Regions from separate parts of the Homo sapiens genome. Here region 2 is linked to region 1. Evidence: fine-mapped expression QTL. Tissue or cell type: whole blood. Region 1 holds a variant in brackets; the other region holds the start of a gene. All regions are shown on one strand. Distances are from middle to middle.

Region 1 (8,107 bases):
CAAAGGGATGGGCCGAATTAATTGCAGCAGGAACATGCCCTTAAGACACAGATCGCTCATGCTTTTGTTTGTGGCTTAAGAATGCCTTTAAGCAGTTTTCTGCCCTGGGCAGGCCAGGTGTTCGTTGCCCTCATTCCCGTAAACCCACAACCTTCCAGCTTGGGCGTTAGGGCCGTTAGGGCCGTTTACGGACATGTTACAGTGCTGCAGAGATTTTGTTTATGGCCAGTCTTGGGGCCAGTTTATGGCCACATTTTGGGGGGCTTGCTCCCAACATCCAAGTTTTTACGGAGAATTCCAAGAGGCAAAGAATAAGAACACAAGCCAGGACTCCTCCTCTTCTCTCACATGCCCCTTACTCCCCAGATCACTCAACTCTTCACCATTCCCCAGATTCCATTTTCCACTTGGATTTTCTCTTTCCCAGTCAAGCCGTGGGGTGAGACATTTACAAGAAAAAAAAAAGACTTCTATTACAAAGTGGATCTGCTAAAAGATAATTATCTTTTAGCATAACTCTACTATACTAAAAGAGTCACTATTTTATTTTCCCCTGCCTTACCAAACACCTCCTTTTGTTCTGTAATGTGTCACTTGTTTGGGTCAGCATTTCCATCAGTGCTAGCAAGGACTGAATATGTAAAAGAAGGAAGGAAACCCTTCATTGTAATGAATTTAAATGCCTTGTGAAACTGGTAGGAGATTTATATACCAAAATAGCAAGAGTGCTTTCCTCTGGGCATTAAGATTCCAAATAATTGTTAATTGTATTTATACATACACACTTTTGTTTCCATTTCCTACTATTGGTATATAAAAATTTAAAAAAAAAATAAACATTCTACAGCTATTGACAACATTTGCAACAATGTTCAACATCGTTCTCTGTTGGTCCACAAGTGCATTAAAAGAAACTATAATATAGAGAAGAAAATTAAGCGGCCATTAAGACACCCCTACAGAGCAGTGTTTTCTTTGAACCAAATCTGAACAGAATCTCACATCACCTTCTTTATGTGCTCCAATTAGATCATACCTCCTAAATTATTTTAAGGCAACACACACCTTGTACAGTGTATTAGTCTGTTCTCATGCTGCTGATAAAGACATACCCGAGACTGGGTAATTTATAAAGGAAAGAGGTTTAAGGGACTCACAGTTCCACATGGCTGGGGAGGCCTCACAATCATGGCAGAAGATGAGGAAGAGCAAAGAGACGTCTTACATGGTGGCAAGCAAGGGAACATGTGCAAAGGAACTCCCCTTTATGAAACCATCAGATCTTGTGAGGATTATTTACTATCATGAGAAGAGCATGGGAAAGACCCGCCCCCATGATTCAATTACCTCCCACCAGGTCCCTCCCATGACACGTGATAATTATGGGAGCTACAATTCAAGATGAAATTTGGGTGGGGACACAGCCAAAGCATATCACACAGTTTCTCAAAAGTTTGTTTCGCAAAGCTTCCTCCCAGTCTCCTTGGATGTCCTGCAGTTCAACTGCAGTGGAGCAGTGAGTCTGAATGCACTCTATACCCCTTCTCCTTAAGACTCCAGTTCAGTATTTATTAGGAGATTTGCATCCCCACACAAGGCAGGGAAGTCTGAATCTCAGCTTTGGTGATGAAAGTGTTAATTACTATCGGAAGCCAGTCTAGATTTTATGCATTTTGCTGGCCTTACTAGTCATTGAATATACACCACTTTGGAAAAGAGAAAAACTTAGGAGGTATTCATAACAGTTATCATTGATATATATGTTTACCTAGTTACTTACTTTATTTATTTTGTTAAATACAAGTCAGTTAAGTTTCAACCATGTTGTTGATCGCTATGAGAGAATCAACAAATAAATGCAAAAGAGTGAATGTATATTTTGTTAGCGTGTGGCTCTTTTTTTTACCCTGTGTGCAGCCATGGTACATTGACTGTCAATTGCAACCATCTTCCTTAGTGACTCCCACATCTTTAAATGTGCACTTTGCCACAATACCCACATTCTCTTGCCCCTGAAAACAGACTAATTGAGAGGGCGTGCTGTATCACAAAGCATGATTTGCCTAAAAAAAAAGATTGCCATCTCGCTCATTAATTTTACATTACCATACTGTGCTTCTATTGATGTTATCACAATGCTTTCTACAGCTGCTTACTGCGATTGCAAAAATACACAGATTGTTCTGTCATTAAGAAGAGTAAACGATTTTTTGAGTGATGTAAGGAAAGGAAAAAGTTTTATGATCATTCTCTCTGGCTATGGTAAACTGTTCTTTGATTACAGTATGAGTTTATGTGTAAACAGTTGTGTGTAATATACATCGTGGTAGAGCTACTTCACTGCTCTGGTGTAATTGAACCATTTTGAGATGTCTTGCTCGCCTGCAGAATGTTAGTTTTATGGCACATAAACGAAAGAGGGTATTGACATTGTTATAAAGATGTGACTCCATCTCAATTTTTCCTGTTATTCCTAAATCACTGAAAAATGAATGAGAAAGGATGGCCACAGAGGAACTACCAGAGTAGCTGTCATCATGCAGGCATGTCAATAGACCAGAAAACACCACCACCATTGAAAACACTTTGGAAACAAAAACAGTATTTTGTTGTGGAAAAAAAAGTACTGGACTGGGAATCAGAAAGTGGGTTTGAGATCCCAATCTGTCACTTATTTATGGAACACTATGGGTAAGTGCAGCATATCCCTTTGCTGAGAGCCTGGGCTTTATACATAAGACAGAGCTCCACCACTTACATCGATGGGTGACCTTGAGCAAAGAACTCCATGCGCCTCAGTTTACTTCATCTAGGAAAGTGGGATAATAATAGTACCCAACCCATGAAGTTGTAAATATTACATGCAATAATGCATGCAAAGTGCTTAGCACAGTGTCTGCTAGACAACAAACATCCAATAAATAATAGATATCATTATTGTTATTAAGACATGATTCCTGGGCTTTAAGTTCTTCAGCTCTGTAAGGTAACTAGATGAGACAAGATCTAAGGGCTCATCCAGGTATAGTAGTCTATGACTGAACTAGAGAATGATTTTATTCATTTACTTATGCATGTATTTATTTGTTTGAGAGGGTCTTGCTCTGTCCCCCATGCTGGAGTACAATGATGTGATCCTAGCTCACTGCAGCCTCTCTCTTGGGCTTAAAGGGCCTCCCACCCCAGCCTCCAGAGCAGCTAGGACTACAGGTGCATGCCACCACACCTGGCTAATATTTATTTATTTATTTATTTTTTGTAGAGACAAGATCTTGCTATGTTGCCCAGGTTGGTCTCAAACTCCTGGCCTCAAGCAATCTTCTTGCTTCAGCTTCTCAAAGTGATGGGATTACAGGCATGAGCCACTGCATCTGGCCCTGATTATACTTTACAAAAGAATTTCTCACAAAAAGATTCAAATAAAAATCATATGTCATTTTATTCATAAAATATATTAATCAGGCCAGGTACAGTGGCTCACCTGTAATCCCAGCACTTTGGGAGGCTGAGGTGGGCAGATCTCTTGGGGTCAGAAGTTTGAGACCAGCCTGGCCAACATGATAAAACCCCATCTCTACTAAAAAAAAATACAAAAATTAGCCGGGCATCGTGGTGCATGCCTGTAATCCCAGCTACTAGGGAGACTGAGGCAGGAGAATCACTTGAACCCGGGAGGCGGCGGTTGCAGTGAGCCAAGATTGCATCACTGCACACCAGCCTGGGTAACAGAGCAAGGCCCTGTATCAAAAAAAAATTAATCTATATTTTAGAAAATTTATGTGTGGTAAAGACCTAAAACTAGCAAAAGTGTGGGGATTGAGATTCTGTTTCTCTGTGTTGTTTATCTTTCACAGTAGACAAATATTTTGCAGGCAGGGATTATGTCTTATTTGTCTTGGGAATCCTAATGTTCAGCTCACTGAGGGATTTAAAAAAAATGTAAATGAATAAATGATTTAATGTTAGAAACAAGAAGCCTAAAATCTCTGCCTTTACAGAGAATACTGTTGAGTAATAGGTACTTTAAAGAAAAATAAAGACATTTAAAAAATCCTTCATGAATTGTGAAGTTTTCAATAGAGTGTTTTAGAGTTGGGGAAGGAGAGCAGAGACCCTCAAGAACTCATAAGACCATGAATTCTGTTGAAGTTTCAGCCTCAATCCCACATTCTCATTTCAGAGTAAAGACTAGAATTAATGTATCTCAAATGTATATGCCTTTGAGAGTGGAAGCTCCATCTATTCATCCAACCACCTGTCCAACATATTCTTCCTGTTCCTTTGGCTTCATTTGAAGAAGGGAGCTGAGAAGAGTTTAGCTTACATCTATGCGACATAACTAGGCCACGATTCCTAGCAGTCTATAACTTAATGTTTCTTAAAGGACTGTGACCAAAAATCTGTCTCTCTTGCTATCTGCCATTTCTGAAAGCTAATATTATGCCAATGACACGTGATTCTGTTGGGTCAAGCCATTGTTCTCTGCTATTAAATAAGTTTTCCTATCATGAAAAAGAAAAGCATAAAAGGGGCTAAAAAGTAAAAAAAAAAACCCTTGGACTGAAATTTGCAATTTTAGTGAGAACGGCCAAAGAAGGCCTCACTGAGGATGTGACATTTGAGTACAGACAAGAATGTGAGGGAGTGAGCCACTTTGATATC[T/C]GGGGGAAGAACATTCCAGATGGAGGGGGAACACCAGATGCAGGGGAAACAGGTGCAAAGGCTCTGATGGGGAGTCTGATTCATGTGTTGAAGGAACAGGAAGAAACTGGTGTGGCTGAGATGGAGGGAGCACAGCAGGAGATGCAGTCAGAGAAGGAAAGGGGAGGAGGCCCAGGTCCTACAGGGCCTTTCAAAGGATTTGGCTTTTACTTTGAGTGAAAAGAAATTCCTTGCTTGAGGCCAGAAGTTCAAGACCATCCTGTGCAACATAGCAAGATCTTGACCCTACAAAAAAATTTAAAAATTATCGGCCAGGCGCAGTGGCTTACAACTGTAATCCCAGCACTTTGGGAGGCCAAGGCGGGCAGATCACGAAGTCAGGAGATCAAGACCATCCTGGCCAACATGATCAAACCCCATCTCTGCTAAAAATACAAAAATTAGCTGGGCGTGGTGGCGCATGCCTGTTATCCCAACTACTTGGAAGGCTGAGGCAGGAGAATCATTGAACCAGAGAGTTGGAGGTTCCAGTGAGCCGAGATTGCGCCACTGCACTCCAGCCTGGCAACAGAGCGAGACTCTGTCTCAAAAAATAAAATAAAATAAAATAATTCCAGGTGTGGTAGCATGGACTTGTATTCTTAGCTGTTCCAGAGACTGAGGTGGGAGGATCTTTGAGCCCAGGAGAGAGGCTGCAGTGAGCTAGGATCACATCACTATGCTCCAGCATGGGGGATGGAGCAAAACCCTATCTCAGAGAAAACTGTTTTACTTTGAATGAACAGAAAACTCTGTTGCCCAGGCTGGAGTGCAGTGGCACGATCATAGCTCACTAAAATGTTGAACTCATAGGTTCAAGCGCTCCTTCTGTCTCAGCCTCCCAAGTAGCTGGGAGTGTGAGTGGAGTCTTACTATGTTGCCCAAGCTGGTCTCAAACTCCTGGCCTCAAGTGGCCCTCCTGCCTCAACCTCCCAAAGCACTAGGATTACAGGTGTAAGCCACCGAACCCGGCCAGATTTTGGAGTCTGAAGAGAGAGGCAACTTGACCTGAGTTGTTCAAAGTGGATTCCTTTGGCTGCTGTGCTAAAGATAGTTGGAGAACGGGGAAGAGGAATAAAGAACATCACTTAGGAAGCTGTTGCTTCTTGGATAAAGAAGTGATCATGGTGGCTTGGAGCATCATAGTAGAACTGATGACAACGAGTTACATCCAGGATAAATGGTGAAAGTAGAGCTATAGGATTTTCTTACAGATAAAATTTAAGATAAGAGACAAGGAGAGGAATCAAAGATGAGCAGATAGAAGGAAACCAGTTCCATTGGCTTCAATGTTAAGACTGTGGGAAAAACAGGTTTAAAGGGAAATATTAGAAGCTCAGCCTTTTGCTTGTTTGGTTTGAGGTATGTAGGAGCAGGCATCTGAGCAGAAAGCTAGAGAGTCTGAAGCTCAGGGTCTGAAGTTATAGCTGAAGGCTTAAGTTAGTAAATATCAGTGAGTAGATGGTATTTAAAGCTCTGAAACTGAATGAGATGACACAGACAAAGTGGATAGATAGAAGAGGATGGTCCAAACACTAAGCGTGGCAGTAATTGAATGTTTTAAATGGGTACCTCCAGAAAAACCAGCAAGAATCCAAGGACTGGCTAGTGAGGAAAGAGGAAAGCCAGGAACATGCGGATCCTGGAAGTCAAGTCACAGAGTATACTAAGGAAGATCCTGGGGACCAGAGGGTCTAACGCTGCTTGTAAGTCCAGTCAGATGATGAAAGAGAATTGACCATTTGCAACATGCTGGTCAACCCATGAAGTGATCATGGAAGTTCTGGTGGCGTCAGCAAAACCCTGATGGAGAGAACGTAGCAGAGAATGGGTGGAGGAAAATTGCAGAGAACATGTATGGTAAAAGCCCAATTTGATTCTATTAAAAAGAAAAGGAGAGAATGGGGGTGACAGCAATAGGGAAATGGTCTCTAGAGATGGGTTTTTTGGTTTGTTTTGTTTTTTCTAAGATGAAAGAAATAGTCACATATTTGAGTGCTGATGGGAAAAACCCACTGGAGCGAAAAATGTGACAATGTAGGAGAAAGAGAAAAATTGTGAGGAAAATTCCCTGGTTTGAGAAAGGAAAATACCTACTGAACAAGTTGACCAGTTGGTTTTAGCTAAAGATCAGGGACAGTTGAAATAGGCAAGTTTATGTGGTTCTTTATTTTCATTCTTTTCTAATGATGAAAATAGATGGGCATTTTTCTTAAGTTCGCATTTGATTAACAGAAGAGCCCCGGAGCTATTATTCTAACATTGCAGATGTTATGGAAATCATTTTAATTCAGCAAATAGCACTTTAACCTGACTTTTCAGGAATGCATCTGTTGCCTGACATAAATTACTCCTAAACAATATAGCTCATTTCTGGCATCGGCCTTGGCACACTGGTTTTTAGGAACAGACTTTTAAATATAAGTTTACCATACAGCGTATGCTTTCTTTATAACAGAAATAATGTAATAATATCTCATATCTGAATTATCTTTCTATACTATGATGCAATAACCTTTTAAATTCCCTTTGATTACGCCCCATCTTCTCAGAATACCAATAGCCCCTATCATATATGTCATTTGTTCAACACTTCATCAACTAGAACCTTGTATTGTTACCTATTTCCTGTGTGTGTGATATATACACGTGTGTACACACCTAGCCATGAATATGTTACGACTAACTATAGAATATGGTCCACTTTTGCTTGTATTTCTGCATTGCTGATGATGACTGAAGCAGTGACCTAAAAACAAGCAAAACCAGGAAATTCCTGGAGAAGCAGTCATTGCCATACTGTCATAAATGCAGAGGTAGGAAACAAATAGAAGCATGAGTGCATGGTGAAATAAGTCTCCTGAACTACTGGGCTCAACACAAATGGCAAGCCTATATGCATTCCTCAAAAGATGAGGCCAGGCGCGGTGGCTCAGGCCTGTAATTCCAGCACTTTGGGAGGCCGAGGCAGGTGGATCATGAGGTCAGAAGATCGAGACCATCCTGGCTAACACAGTGAAACCCCGTCTCTACTAAAAATACAAAAAAATTAGCTGGACGTGGTGGTGGGTGCCTGTAGTCCCAGCTACTCAGGAGGCTGAGGCAGGAGAATGGCACGAACCCAGGAGGCGGAGTGCAGTGAGCCGAGATTGCACCACTGCATTCCAGCCTGGCTGACAGAGCAAGACTCCGTCTCAAAAAAAAAAAAAAAAGAGACAACTTCAACTTCCCAAGACTAACATCAGATCATTTTTATTTTTATTTTCTTTTATTATTATTTTTTTGAGATGGAGTTTCACTCTTGTTGCCCAGGCTGGAGTGCAGTGGCACAATCTTGGCTCATTGCAACCTCTGCCTCCCAGGTTCAAGCGATTCTCCTGCCTCAGCCTCCTGAGTAGCTGGGATT
Region 2 (8,107 bases), 620 kb before region 1:
TGTTTAGAAACTTAACAATAGAAAGAGATAGCAAGACTAAGCAGGTGGATGAAACACTGATGTGTATTTGAGTTCCCATTGTATTCATCGTGTCTTAACAATTATTTTCTAGCATTTTCCATAAAAGTATTTTAATCAGTAATCCACCATTTACAAAACCCCTCATCTGGCTTATCCTGTAGGCCTTATTTTATTCAATTTGCTTTTTCCATGTCAAACTTACTTAGTAAGATGAATGCAGTTCTTAAATCATAAGATGTGCCACAGTTCAATATATCTCAAATAGTGAGATCTCCAATCACACTATCTGTGGATGCGATGTATATTAGTGATCCACTGTATTTCGTAAAAATACAAGTGAGATTTTTGAGTTTCTAGTTCTTCCCCTCTCCAGGAAAAAAAAAAAAAGAAAGAAAAAAGAAACATACATACTGTATACATTTCTTAACAAGAGTTCCCAAACCAAAAGTGCTAACAGGAAGGAGTATAAGAGCTTACACATTTAACTATAATCTTCCTGGTTTGGGGAACTCAGAAATCACTTAACGTACTTCAATTTCCATACCATTGACATATAATCTGGCTGAGATTGGAATCCCTCCTGGATCCATTTATAATCTACATTGTACACACCGACTTCCCCCCCGTAGACAGGCGTGACCACTAGATGGTGCTGTGGTGCCCTGTTCAAAAACATTCCCACTTACTTGCAGTCTCTGTCCTCCAAATCGAAGTGAGGGTTGAAGTTGATCATAATTCTCTGGTATGGGTCCGGAGCCTGAATCAGCCATTCGCATTTTTCACTTGGGTGATAAGAATGAGGATAACCAGGAGATGTAAGGTACCCGGGGCTTTCAATTTTTATAGTATCGCCACATTTATCTGCAATGAAAGTAAGATTTTAGCAGATCTTTCCTGACAACCTGTTAGGTAATCTAGCTTTATATGTAAATTACTGGTTATTAAACATTCCTTAACTTTTTAAGGGGAACTCTAAAAGGTCCCCGTAAGTCCTTCGTGTGGCTCTGAGTGCAACACTCCAGGAAAAAACACTCTTTGATCTCAGGAAGGTTGACTCAGGCAGAAAGCCAACTGAGATCTGAGAGGACTCTTCCCCCCAGCCCCGAAGTTTCTTCCTAAGGAAAAGGTCTTCTAGCATTAAAAACATTAAATCCCCTCAATTGATGTTAACATGGTCCCCTGGGAGCTTCTGCTAGACTTAATTATCCCCCAAGAAGTGTAATCACATTAAGTAGCAAGTTCTAAGTGGAAAGTGACTGAAAGATGCTGTTCGACCCCTTGTGTTGTTTTTTGATGATAAGCCTGGTCTATGTCATTGATCAGTGGGGATTGTCTTTGATTGGCTTAAAGCCAAACCTTTTGTTGTTGTTGTTTTATCTGCCCATAAATCTAAGTGATTTTGAGTTATCTCTGCTCTTGAGATCCAAATCAACAGAGAACAAAGTATATTTGGTGAAGCAGAAATAATTCTGCTTTACTTCTCCAAGTAAAGTTGTTCAAGCTTGGAGATCGGATCAAAGCAACGGGGCAGAAGGAAAAGTAAATAGCCACATGGCATTAATTCTAATTACCTAAATGTTGGGTGAAAAATAACCCACCACACAGGTCTGGGTATCACATATGGTAACCCACATTCTCACATTCTGGGAAAGGTGAGCTAAGTAGTTTTGAGCCTTCATTTCAAAAATGCTCAAGTGAAGCCAAATAAACCAAGTAAACCAGTCTCTGGGCTGCCTATATTGTTCAGCATAGATTCTCATTGTCACATTTTATGATGGATTTCATACTGGAGCACCTCAGCCTGAAATGCTGCCACATTTATTGATGCTTAATTTTGAGCAATAAAAATTCGGTGCATAAACTATATAAGAGAAACGGTATGAAAACAGTGAAATATATAAGCCTATCAATCACAAATTTTCAGTAATGGTAGATGTAGATTTTAACACTGCATCTAATAGATTCCCTGTGGAAAGAGAATGGCATTCTTTGCTCTCAGCATGAATTTATAAATCTACAGAATTTTATTACAGGAAAACCAGGTCAAATGGAAATGAAAGATGAAGTGCACATCAAAAATGCATAAAGCTACATGCATTACAGAAATCATTTCCCATAAATTAAAAAAAGAAGACAATATAAGTTATATTGTTTTTCTCAATCGCTAGGTGCTTCTGACTTTGTTCCTTAGACTGGGGGTAGTCTTATGCTGGTTTCCTTTGCACTGGCTTGTAAAAGTGTAAGCTTTGCCAGGAAGAAATGATGTTGCAACTGGAGTTCAAAATCTCAGCTAATGATCATGTTGGACTCTGTTATGTGATTCTGCTGAGACTCTTGCATTATTTTGAATGTGCAGAAAACTTGGAAAGTGACCTCGTCTCATTAAGTTTCCTCTAGCTCTGGACAAACATCATGGTAGTGTCTGGCATCTGTTACAGGAGTGAAATAAAACAGCACTGGTTCTAGTCACTCGACAGAGTCACTTCAGAAGACATTTAGGTGGACTTGGTACCACACCAGAGCTCTTTAATCTGTGACTTCTGAGAAAGTGACAGTGTAATAAGATAATGTGGACTGCTAGACTCCCTGGCTCTGTTCAATCTCTCTAGCAGTTGATTAAGAAAGAGCAGTTTCTAATGACTCTGGACCATTAGTCCTAAATAAGGTTAATGAATTAATTTAGCAGACACTGGTTACTCAGAGGAGGTGGACATGGCTTTGAGAGGTCTGCTGAGTTACAGAGGCATTTTCTGGCTCTGGTCACTTCAAGCATAGCGACATGGCTTTTGCTGGTAAAGCTCAACAACTAAAGCCAGATTTTCAGCATTCCCCAGATTTCTGCTAAGAAAACTAAGAAGTGTGTGTGTGTGTGTGTGTACTGCATATATATTTGTGTAGTTCACAACCTAAAGTCTGATAGCTCTTTGCATTGAGCTTCAAATCTATCTTGTGAACACCCCCACTATGGATTTAGTCTCAAGAGTTGTGGAGGACAGGGTTACTATAATTTCTAGTCCAACCATTTGAGCTCTTTCAGTTGGACGAGAATGCTATTTCATTCCCTGCCAGAGTATAGAAAGATGCTACCAGCTCAGGTTCATTAATAAATTGAATTCTACATTCATAATTTTTTGTGTCTTGCTTTCCTGCCAGATTATAGAAAAATGCCATCAACTTGGGCTCATTAATAAGCTGAATTCCATGTTCATAATTTTTTTTTTTGCATGTGTTTTGCTTTAAGCATCTCTTAAAATACTGCTTGGTAGCTGCTGAGGGAAATCCATTGCTAAAATCACAAAACCTTGAAAAAGCATATTAGAGAGATTAACTTCCATCATAAAGATGTGATTTAAATTCCTGTTGGTATGAGGCCCTCCACTTGCGGTCTCTTATTAAAACAATATACCACAGTAAGTAGTGGATGTTCTTTTCTTCTAATTACTGTGATTGAAATCTAAGCCAGACAAAAGTAAATATTTGATCATTAGTTAATAACAATTGCTGACGACTTACTGTAAAGATAATTGCATACCCTTGCCTGCACTTACTTTACAGTGTGAAGTCAAACATGCCTACAACCAGATCCCATTTTAAAACACATTATTTAGGTTACATGGTACTGTTTAGACCCCAGTATAGTTTTTCATTTACTTAACAGTGAGTGATTTTAAAAGCTAAGTGGAAGCTGCAACTAGCTTAGGGATTTTCAGATATCCTGGTGCCTTACACTGTATATGTCAGATTCCTGTATTGATACTATGTAACTTTCAGTCATACTCCAGACAGATTACGGAAGGTGTACAAAGGCGGGGGAGGGAGTTTCATCAACCCACAAACCGATATCTCTGGCCGTCACCCACCAGAGGAAACGGCTTAGGGGAGCAGCAAAGGAACCAGGAAGTAAGATCTCCTGGTAAAGTGTTCATTAACTTTCAACAGCCATCAGATTTTTGAAAGGGAGTCTCTTCTAATTGCCTTTGGGAGGAAACATTATTAAGATAATTGGCATGCTGATCTGGGAAGGTAGACAGCTCTGTCTTGTAACAGAGGTAAGGAAAAGCCCCACAGCCCAAGGATCAACGTCAGGAGGGAGCCCAAAGACCTGAAATCCTCCTGCTCTAAACCGCCTGATCTCATTTCTTCTTCTCTCCTCCCAGATAAAAGTTTCCTTCGCCCGGGAGTCGGTTGTTCCCGGCTGATCCCGGGAAGCCCCGCCTGAGCCCCGGTCCGGGGCGGGCAGCTGGGAGCCGGGGCGCCGCTGTCACCCGCGCCTCTGCCTGTCACTTACCGTTGCGAAAAGCGCCGGCCGGGGCGAGGACGAGGGCGAGCACGGCGCAGAGGAGCGGCAGCCCCCTCTCCATTCTCCCTTCTCCGGGTCCGCAGGCAGACGCGGGAGAACGAGGACGTGGGGGGAAATGCAGCAAAGAGGAGAATCTAAGCGATCCGAAGAGCCCCAACTCCGCCTAGAGCTGTACAATCCTCAGCCCGTCTTGGAGAAAAGAAAGCAGCGAGGCAATGCCTGGATCCGAGAGGAACGCTTCTCTTTTTGTGTCTCAAGTCGCCTGCATCCTGTCATTTAGCTCCGGCTTCCTCTCCCTTTTCCCACACTTGTTCCTCTTCCAGGAGCCACTGCCCGGGCCATGTCTCAAAAAAAAAAAAAAAAAAAAAAAAGGCCGGGGGGGGGCTGTGGGTGGGAGGGGGAGGAGGGAGGTAGGGCAACACACACCAAAGCCAATTTCCAGGAAGAAAAAAAAAAAATCCGGCTTGTTTCTGGACCCGTTGGAGCCGCGGAGCTGGCGCCCAGGGGAGGTCCGGGTGTCTGCGGGAAGGAGGGGAACGAGCAATGAAAAGATGAGCGGGAGACAGAGGAGTTTCACCAACTGCACCCCCGCCTCCCCTCCTGCGGCCTCCCCCCACTCCGGAGCCCTTCCCTCGCTTCCTCCCGCCCCTCTCCCCGCTTGGGCTCGCCTGTAATTGCCTGACAGGAGACTGGGAGGAACAACTTTCCCTCCGAGTGCTCTCCCCGTCCGTCTGTCTGTCTTTCCCAGAGACCCTGCAGGGATCTCCGCGGGAAGGAAGGCGCTGGGAGTCTGCGCCCCGGTCGCGTGGGTGCGGGCGTCGGAGGAAGGGGCGCGGAGGTCAGTGCCAGCCGCAGGGTCTGGCCAGCCCACCTCGCGTGCTCGCTCTGCACCCCTAGAGGGAGAGCTGGGCAGCTCCTGCAGGCGCAGATCCCGCCGCCGCGCAGTGCGGAGCGCCCGGGAGGTGGCGGCTGCTTCTCGCAACTTCAAATCCCGGGGCCCGCGCCCTCGGCGGCGAGGAACGCAGGGTCACCCCCTGCCACTCCTCATCGCGCCATCCTGAGACCTGTGGCGGGGAGCAGCGGGGCACCCCTGGACGCCCCTGCCCAGAGCTGGAGGGCGAGGAGGGGAAAGCCGGGCTGGAGTGGGAGCCGCACCGCGAAGCCGGGCGAGGGGCAGCAGTGTCGCTGTGGTGTGAAGCGAAGACAGACCGCCTGGGCGGGCGAGGCCGGGCTGCAGCCCCACGCGGCCTCCCTGGCCCGCATCAGGGCGCGCGGCTGGGTGCCCTCTGCGCGCCGCGGAGGCTTCATTGTTTCCCGAGATTTGGTGCCCGTTCCTCTGGGGCAGAGGGAACACCGGAGGGTGGGAGGTGCTGCGCCTTCCAAGCAGGGGGGCAATCGCCGCCCGACCCCGCCCAACCTTGTCTGGGAGCCCAGGTGCTAGGGAGGGGTGTGGAAATCAGGGGTCGGGCGGCCCCCGTTTCTCTGTGCATCCCGAGGGAGGGAAAGAGTGGCGGGGGAGGGGTGCTCTTCGCTGCGCCCTCTCAGTGTCCGCTCCCGGCCACAGACAACGTGCACGCCGGCCCTGGAGCTCCTGCCACCCCCACTTCCCACAGCGGCTCGTGCCCCCAGCCCGCTGGATGCCCCCCAGGCCCGTCCCCGAGGGTTTTCCGAGAAGTGCTGCAGGAAGCGTTTGTAGATGCGAAAAGCAAGGACATTTCTGGGAAGAAACAGGTTGCGGTCACCGATCAGGCCCCGGAGAAGGGTCAGTGCCCACGGGGCACCTCCCAGGGAGTTTGTGGGTAAGGTGAAAAGGTCACACGCCTCCTGGGGATTGGCGTCTACACACACAGCCAAAGTACAGCCTGATTCCTACCTGGCACAAATAGCTGGCCAAAGGGAGGTAGGAATGCTGGCAAGGAGACTCTGGTCAAAGGTTTTGGCGGAAGAAAAAGGGGCGGGCAGGGAGAAAGCCCAAGGCGCGCGGGCCCCAGGCCAGGACTGCGCGCTCGCGACTCGGGCTGGGAGCAGTGACGTGCGCCCCTCGGGGTGCAGGCCGTTCCCGGGCCAGTGGGAGGTGCACCCACGGAGCCCGCACTCGCCACTCTCTTGCCCCGGGTCAAGCCTGTCTTCTCCTCCCCACGCGCCTCGGGATTCCCAGTCGCCAAGTTGGAAACTCGGCCCCCCCGAGCGCCTCTTTCCTCTGCCAGTTTCCTCCTTCTTCTCAGCTGTCGGACCCCTGGGAGGCGCGGGGTGGGAAGTGGGCACCGAAGGGCTGGGAGTTAAATGCCTAAGTTGAGCGGAAGGAGCACTGTCGAAGCCATGGGCAGCCCTGCGCCCGGGCAGGCGGGCAGGCGGGAGGCGAGGCGGGGGCGCCGACCGCGCCCAGCGCAGACCCCGGGGGAGTGAGCGCCGCAGAGGCAGCCTGGGCTCTCGGCTACTACCCGCGCGCGGTCGCCGCCTCCCCAGGTGCAGCCCCGCCAGTCCCAGCCCCCGGCTGCGCCGGGCGAGCGGCATCATCAGATTTAGGGTGACCCGGAGCGACCTCGGTCCAGGCTCGGAGGGAGAGGCGCCTCTCAGGACCTGGCAGGTTGACAGGGAAGGGGAACCGGGAGGGAGCGGCGGCCGGGGCGGCCTGGAGTCTCGGAGGCCCGCCTGCGTCCTGGGGGGACCCGACCTCCGCGCTCGCTCCGGAGCGCCCGTTTGGATAGCTCTGAGCCTCGGCGGGGTGAGCGAGGGGGCACACGAGGGAGACTTGAGCTGTGTTGTTTTTAGAAAACTGCCGCCAATCTCTCTTCCCCTTTCCCTGCTGAGTGTGCATTTTCCAGCCTAGACCCGCCAGGCCAGCAAATAAAGCCACCGGATCGTGCACTCCGGAGCGACTGCCCCCACCCCGACCTTGTCTTTCCCGAAGGGAATGGCTCCTCCGGCGCCTCAACGCACAGAAAACGCCTGCCTCCAGCTGAGCGCTTTTGCCAGCTTTCTCCAACCAGTGAATAAGGGATGCACTATGGACTCAGAAGGAAATGTCATATTTAAGTTCTGCCTCTGATTTCTCTGCTCTTAGCTGATCTAAGGTTTTTCTAGACTCCTTAGTTTCCACTCACAGTGCTGGGTAATGGAGCCCTACCGCACTGATTGAGAATTGCCGGCCAGTGGGTTGGTACAGAGCAAATTGTCCTTGCTAACAACCTTTTTCCTTTGCTGTTGGATTCCACTAAGTGGTGAGAGGGGTCAGTTTTAGATTTTTGCAATTCCCCAGCGTGGAGACAGGCCGGCTCTATACGAGAATAAGTGATAGGCAGAGGAAGAATTTGGCAGTGTTCCCGGGTTGATTTTATTTTGGTCTCTTGAACACATTATTCTTCCTGATAGAACAAATCCCTGGACTTGGTAGGACCCAGTTCCAGGGAAGGGAAGAGTCCTCTACCGCACCCCCAGAACGCCCTGCAGAGGCTGTGAGTGGGCAAAGCCCAGTTTCCTGGACTCCCACTTAGGAGGTGCTGCAGAAATAAGGCCTTCAGCTGGGGCTCCCTGAGTCGGATTGGAACCGTGGCCCATCAGTAAGAGTAGACTGGATGGTAACTGCTCGATTCCTTTCATCAAGCTCTCATCCCTTTGTCAGAAATAGATGAAATCGATTGCTCCCAGAAGGCCATTTGAGCCACTAACTCCCTCAAAGTACTTCAGATTCATGCAATATGGAGATTCGGGTTGGTAGTTCAAACTGCATCATATCTAGTCAAGTTTTTTGAAAACATCAAACCCATAAATTTCAGAAAAGCAATA

Evidence for each region. PIP is the estimated chance that this variant, and not a neighbour inherited with it, causes the effect.
Region 2: NRP1 starts here. The variant in region 1 is fine-mapped to the expression of NRP1 in whole blood (TOPMed, PIP above 0.99).

What each region holds. Positions count from the first base shown.
Region 1 is chr10:33,945,679-33,953,785 of GRCh38, forward strand. No RefSeq gene overlaps it. Among named protein-coding and RNA genes, the nearest start is that of LINC02629, 46 kb to the left of the region's middle. The variant T/C (reference allele first, on the strand shown) is at 4,663.
Region 2 is chr10:33,330,001-33,338,107 of GRCh38, forward strand. It overlaps NRP1 (neuropilin 1), which reads right to left and starts at 4,667. Exons shown (of 17, transcript NM_003873.7): 1 at 4,310-4,667; 2 at 708-882. The coding sequence starts at 4,382.